2 linked regions of the Homo sapiens genome follow. The protein of the gene in region 1 purifies or fractionates together with the protein of each later gene. This does not show direct contact. Each region holds a gene or a part of one and is shown on either strand. Other genes may lie near its edges.

Region 1 (3,500 bases):
TAACAACAGACATGTATTATTTTTCATTAAAAAAAAGCCTCAGCCTGGGCACCATCGTGAAACCCCATCTCCACTAAAAATACAAAAATTAGTCAGGCATGGTGACATGCCCCTGTAGTCCCAGCTACTTGCGGGGCTGAGGTGGGAGAATCATTTGAGCCCAGGAGACGAAGGTTGCAGCGAGCTGAGATTGCGCCACTGCATTTTGGCCTCGGCAGCAGAGCAAGACCCTGTCAAAAACAAGCAAACAAACAAACCAACCAAAACAACCCCCACAACACTTTATTCACTGTCATGAAACAATCTCTAAGACATTATATTCAGGAAAAAAAGCAAGTTGCAGGCCAAATGTGTTGTCTCATGCCTGTAATCTCAGCACTTTGGGAGGCAGGAGGATTACTTTAGGTGAGAAGTTTGAGACCACCCTGGCAAACATAGCGAGATTTTGCCTCCATATTTAAAAAAAGAAAAAAAATTTTTTTAATTTATAAAAAGTTTCAGAATAATATAAATGATTATTTGTTTAAAGACAAAAACTTAAAACTGTACATATGTACATATTATGCACTGAAATGAAATGTACAGTAAAGGTCTGGAAAGATATACACCAAATTGTTATTCTTGGTAGAATATTAAGATTTGTATGGTTGCTAGGAGGGAAGCATGAAGGAGGGATGCCTACCTTATTCTCTATATACTTCTGCAGTACTTATAATTCAAAACATTTTTCAACTTTTGAAAGTTGAAGGAGTTATCAGCTTATAAAATAAGATTAATGTAATTAATATAAAATTATAAATACAACTTAAAGAAAGTATAATTTTTTATTTTTTTATTTTTGAGATGGAGTCTCGGCTCTGTTGCCCAGCCTGGAGTGCAGTGGTGTGATCTCGACTCACTGCAACCTCTGCCTCCCAGGTTCAAACAATTCCTGTGCCTCAGCCTCCCGAGTAGCTGGGACTACAGGCATGTATCACCATGCCTGGCTAATTTTTTTTGTATTTTAGTAGAGACAGGGTTTTACTATATTGGCCAGGCTGGTCTCAAACTCCCAACCTCAAGTGATCCGCTCCCCTTGGCCTCCCAGAGTGTTGGGATTACAGGCGTGAGCCACTGTGCCCAGCTTAAAGAAAGTATAATTTAATTTTCATTTTTTCCAATGTGTTTCCTATGATCAATAAGATTTAGGTAAACTCTTACCCTTAAATGAAGCACGTCCCAACTTTGTAATATGAAAATTATATTGGACCTCTTCTTCAGACTTATAAATAGTGTCTTTTTGTAGGAGTCCTTTTTCTGTCAGGTATCTAAGTGATTCAACAGTTATTTCCCAGAGACTTTTTTCTTTCAATAAAACCTTTTGCTGAACACCAAAAAATGTACCATTCATGAAATGATAGATGTCATCAAGATTCGTTGCAATCTGAAACAATTCAGGATATCATTGGAGCATTTTCCTTAATTCAAGGCATCACCTTGAATGCATATTAATCAAGATAACTCATTTCCATACCTCAAAGCTATTTAAATAAAAAATTAGTATTAAATCTACACAGTTGCATATATAAATTTATAATGGCAATTAAAAATTAACAAAAAATTTAGGGGGATGATAGTTATTATATTCATGCTTTTTATGAAAACATGTACTCATTTTTCATTCCAAAACTCCTTTGGATAGATCTTTAAATAATTTTTCACAATATCTCCAGAACTGTGCTATTTACTCCCCAACCAATTTTCACTAATTCTCACTCAGCCTCCTTTAGGGATCTTCCCTGCACTGCATTCCACCCAACTGTAAAAACATCCTTTAGCTCTAAAAGTTGCATTAAAAAAAAAAAAAGGAAAATACAACAGTTTCTGGGTGCAGCACACCAACATGGCACATGTATACATATGTAACAAACCTGCACATTGTGCACATGTACCCTAGAACTTAAAGTATAATAAAAAAAAAACAAAAAACAAAATAAATTAAAAAAAGAACTGAAAAAAAAAATACAAGTTTCCACTAAAACAGCGTCAGACAATATTTTGCCTAAAATGTTACCTAAAAATAGTTGATCTCTACCTATTTTTGTCTCTCTCATTCCTATCTCCATTTCTTGTTCTTTCACTGTTATTCACTATTTATAACTTACAATGGCAATCATAAGGAATACTTAACCCTCCATTTAGTATTCAGATGTAGAGCTGACTCTGAATTAGAATAATTTTTATTAGCCAATTTCAATGAAATCAGCATGTTATACTAAAATATAGTCAATCAATAAGTATATTTCTCTCTCTTACAATTCTGATGCTATTTCAACTGGAAAATTTAAGTCGTAATTTCATATTAAACCAATATAAGGGGTAAGAAAAATATAATGGAGCACAGACATTTTCTATTGCTTCTTCCCACTTTAATAAAAATCATTATTAATATAGTATTCAATTAAGCTAAAATTATACTTTTAAGATATTTAAGAACTGATACTTGGTTTTTGGATTATTAATGTACTTTGTTTTTGTACTGTTTCCTACCTAAATGATTAGAGTTAACACTGGGGGTGGAAGAGTGCAGGGGGGCAGGGGAACCTTTACTTGATCCCTCTATCTACCATCATGTTATCTTTCTATTCCTCCCTGAAAAAGTTTTTGACATAGTAATTGAAACCCACTGGGCCAGCCTCTGCTTCTGGCTTCTCAAATCCAGATTCTCCACTGATGCCCCAACTTGGAAGTTCACCCACGCTCAGTTCCAAAGTTAATTTCATCACCATGTCCCAGATTAAAGAAAAAACAAACAAACAAACAAACAAAACAGGCCAGGCGCAGTGGCTCATGCCTATAATCCTAGCACTTTGGGAGGCTAAGGTGGGAGGACTGTTGAGGACAAGAGTTCAAGACCAATCTAACCAACATAGCAAGACCCCATCTCTAAGAAAAAAAAAAGCCAATTTCATTAATTCAAGTATTTATTAAGTGCCAACCACTTGCCAAGCATTAGGATTCAGTGATCTTTTTTTTTTTGAGATGGGGTCTTGCTATGTTGCCCAGGCTGGTCTTGAACTCCTGGGCTCAAACGATCCTCCTGTCTCAGCCTCCCTAAGAGGTGGGATCACAGGTGTGAGCTACTGCACCTAACCATTCCATGATCTTTTAAAAATTATTTACATTAATCACTGAAGGGGATGAGAAAACAAAATTAAAAAGAAAAAAATTAAAAGAAAAAATTATTAAATAAAAAATTAGTATAAAATCTACACAGTTGCATATATAAAGTTATTGCATAACTTTTTAACCTCTATTGTCTCAGATAACAGTAATAAGATAAAAAATTTAAGAAAAATACCTTCAAACCAATCAAAGAGAGAAATAATGTTTGGATTCCCTTGGTGAATTCCTGAACAAGATGGCTGTAACAGTTTTCCAATGGTTTAGTTATTAACTCCAATACCTATAAAGGTTAAAGCAAAACCATGCCTTGTGTTATTATTAAAAATAAATGGTAT
Region 2 (3,500 bases), on another chromosome or scaffold:
AGGAGGGGCAGAACAGCAGGCTCACCTGCTGGGCCACAGTGCCTCGGAGCTCCTGCAGCACATCCAGCATCTGGAAGATGTCAAATGCATGCACCACCTGGATCCTCCGGAGAGCTTCTGCCTGAAGCGGTGGAAAAGAAAAGCAAGGACTTTGGATAAGAGGGAGTAGGGGGGTCAAGGTAAGGCTGAGAAGGAAGAGGCACCTGGATGCAAGGACTCAGGTCCAGGGTGGCAAATGAGCTTTGTCTAATGGTCAGTTGTCACAGTGGTGGCTGCCTGGGTGCTGAGCTGTAAAGTACTCAGAACTCAGCAGGAAAGAGGGATATGACTGATTAGTGATGTCTCTCACAGGTGAGAAATGGACTGGAAACACAAAGCTTGGTGTTTGCCAGCCCTGGTTTAGGGCATGCAAAGAGTTGGGAGGGTTTCCTGGAAGAATCAGTGTGAGTAGCATCCCAAATGGGATGATGGCATCAACAGGGGTGGCTTAAGGAATACGAGATGTATTAATAGAACAGCAAGTTTGAAGGCAAGGAATGACTATTCAACCCAAATTCTTACAATGTTAAGGGATAATGGGGTTTTCCTGTGTCAGAATCTCAATGGAACCCAGCATCCTGCCCTTACCTGTTCCTCCTCATCCTGGGTTTTAGCCTGAAGCAGCTGGAGGAGGCGGGAAGCTGTCAGCCCTCCATTGGAATCTACATATAGGACGTTTTGCTGCAGGCCATGGGCCACATTTGCTGCCATACAGAGACATACCTGGGGGTGGGGGCATTGGATGAACTTGACACTTCAGAGAGGGTCCAGATGGGAGCTCCCCACCAAACCTTGCCCAGATTCCAGCAACACAAATGGGCTGAGTCCCGACCCCATTCCTTATTACCCATCTTCTCTCTGTTGGGCTCTGAACCCATTAGTACGCTGAAGCTCCCCCAGGGACCCTGGGCTATGCATCTACCACCCTCACCCCTAAATCCTCCTGACTGCTGGCCTCACATGTACCTGAGTTTTGCCGCTACCTGGGCCTCCTACAATTTCAGTCACTTCTCCAGTATAGAGACCAGCATCAAGCAGTTTATCAAGACTGATGGCAGAAGAGAAGAAAATCAACACAAGAGGTTAGGAGGAAGACAGGGGAAAAGGTACCAAGAAGAAAAGTAAGACATTTCTTTCAAGCACTGGTTCTGTCTTTGAACATCACTGGCCAGGAGGCTTCTCCTGGTGTTTTCTTCTGGTAAGGAGGGAATGCCCAAATGTGCCTTCTCTGGTCTCTCTTCATCCCTCCACTCTTAAAGATCAGCTCTCCAGAGAGGCCTCTGCCACCCCATCAGAAGGTTCTCCCTTCATTTTTCATCTCAGGCCCTGTGGGTTTCCTTTTTTTTTTTTTTTTTTTTTTTTTTTGAGACGGAGTCTCTCTTTGTTGTCCAGGCCGGAGTGCTGGAGTGCAGTGGCGTGATCTCTACTCACTGCAACCTCCACCTCCCAGGCTCAAGTGATTTTCCTGCCTCAGCCTCCCGAGTAGCTGGGACTACAGGTGCCCGCCACCATACCCGACTAGTTTTTTTAATTAGAGACGGGGTTTCACCATGTTGGCCAGCCTGGTCTCAAACTCCTGACCTCAAGCGATCCACCCACCTCGGCCTCCCAGAGTGCTGCAATTATAGGCGTGAGTCACCACGCCCAGCTGTTTGTGGGTTTCCTTGATAGCGTTTCCCAAAATTTGTCGCTTTTTTTAAACTTTGATGGTGGCACACGCCTGTAGTCCTAGCTACTCAGGAGGCTGAGGCAGGAGAATCGCTTGAACCCAGGAGGTGGAGGTTACAGTGAGCCGAGATCACGCCACTGCACTCCAGCCTGGTGACAGAGCAAGACTCTGTCTCAAAAAAACAAAACAAACAACAACAACAACAACAAGAAAAAACAACTTTGAGATAATTATAGATTCCCAGGAAGTTGCAAAAAGTCCATGAACCCTTCACCTGGTTTACCTTAATAATAACAACTGTACTACAAAATGTATTGTACTAGCCAGGGGCCTGTAGTCTCAGTTACTTGGGAGGCTAAGGTGGGAGGATCACTTGAGTCCAGGAGTTCAAGTCTAGCCCAGGCAACATAGCAAGACCCTTTTCTCTTTAAAAAAAAAAAAAAAAAAAAAAAAAAGGACTATAGTATATCACACAAGTAGCAAACTGATGTTGGTACTATCCACAGAGCTTATTCAGATTTCACCAGTGTTCCTAGCATTCAAGCACGTGTGTTGATGTGTCTAGTCCTATGCCATTTTATCACATATGTAGATTTACACGACTACTATAATCAAGATACAGAACATTTCCATCACTATAAGTCTTCCTCCTGCTACCCTTTTATAGCCACATTCCTCCCATTCACCCCTAATCCCGAATCCCTGGCAACCACTAATCTCTATTATGTTATTTCAAGAACAAAGTTATGTACATAGAATTATACACTGTGTAACCTTTGTGATTGGCTTTTTTTCTTTTCTTTTTTTTTTTTTTTTGAGACGGAGTCTCGCTCTGTCGCCCAGGCTGGAGTGCAGTGGTGCAATCTCAGCTCATTGCAACCTCCACCTCCCAGGTTCAAGCAGTTCTCCTGTCTCAGCCTCCCGAGTACCTGGGATTACAGGCGCCCACCACCACACCTGGATAATTTTTGTATTTTTAGTAGAGACGGGGTTTTGCCATTTTGGGCAGACTGGTCTGGAACTCCTGACCTCAAGTGATCCGCCCAACACAGCCTCCCAAAGTGCGGGGATTACAGACATGAGCCACCGTGCCTGGCCCTGCGATTGGCTTTTTTACTCAGCATCATTCCCTTGAGATCCATCCCAGTTATTGCATATATGGATAGTTCATTCCTTTTTACTGCTAAAAAGTATTCCATGGTATGGATGTACCACAGTTTATTTAACCATTCATCCATTGAAGGGCATTTGGTTGTTTCCACTTTGGGGCTACTATAAATAAAACTGCTATAAGCATTTTTTACAGGTTTTTGTATAAACCCAAGTTTTTACAACGTTGGGATAAATGCCCAAGAATACAATTGCTGGGTGGTATGGTAAATGCATTATTAATTTTATAAGAAACTACCAAACTATTTTCCAGAGTGGCTATGCCATTTTACATATCCGCTAACAATGTATATATGAGTAGTCCAGTGTCTCCACATCTTCATCAGCATTTGGTATTATCATTATTTTTTTATTTTAGTCTTTCTGATAGGTATGAAATAATAGCTCACTGTGTTTTTAATTTGCATTTCCCTAATAGTTAATAGTGTTGAACTTTTTTTTTTTTTGAAACGGAGTTTCACTCTTGTTGCCCAGGATGGAGTGCAATGGCGTGATCTCGGCTCACCACAACCTCCACCTCTCAGGTTCAAGCAATTCTCCTGCCTCAGCCTCCCGAGTAGCTAGGATTACAGGCATGCACCACCACGCCTGGCTAATTTTGTATTTTTAGTAGAGACGAGGT

Evidence for each region. Proteins that work in one complex are often made in the same cells at the same time.
Region 2: the proteins of HELQ (region 1) and RAD51D purify together in Homo sapiens (affinity purification with mass spectrometry; one study listed by BioGRID and IntAct). This does not show direct contact.

What each region holds. Positions count from the first base shown.
Region 1 is NC_000004.12:83,428,324-83,431,823, forward strand, and holds part of HELQ (helicase POLQ-like), read right to left. Parts: intron 3,446-3,500; coding exon 3,341-3,445; intron 1,424-3,340; coding exon 1,201-1,423; intron 1-1,200. UniProt on the Homo sapiens protein: Single-stranded 3'-5' DNA helicase that plays a key role in homology-driven double-strand break (DSB) repair.
Region 2 is NC_000017.11:35,106,361-35,109,860, forward strand, and holds part of RAD51D (DNA repair protein RAD51 homolog 4), read right to left. Parts: intron 1,088-3,500; coding exon 1,006-1,087; intron 763-1,005; coding exon 628-762; intron 122-627; coding exon 26-121; intron 1-25. UniProt on the Homo sapiens protein: Involved in the homologous recombination repair (HRR) pathway of double-stranded DNA breaks arising during DNA replication or induced by DNA-damaging agents. Bind to single-stranded DNA (ssDNA) and has DNA-dependent ATPase activity.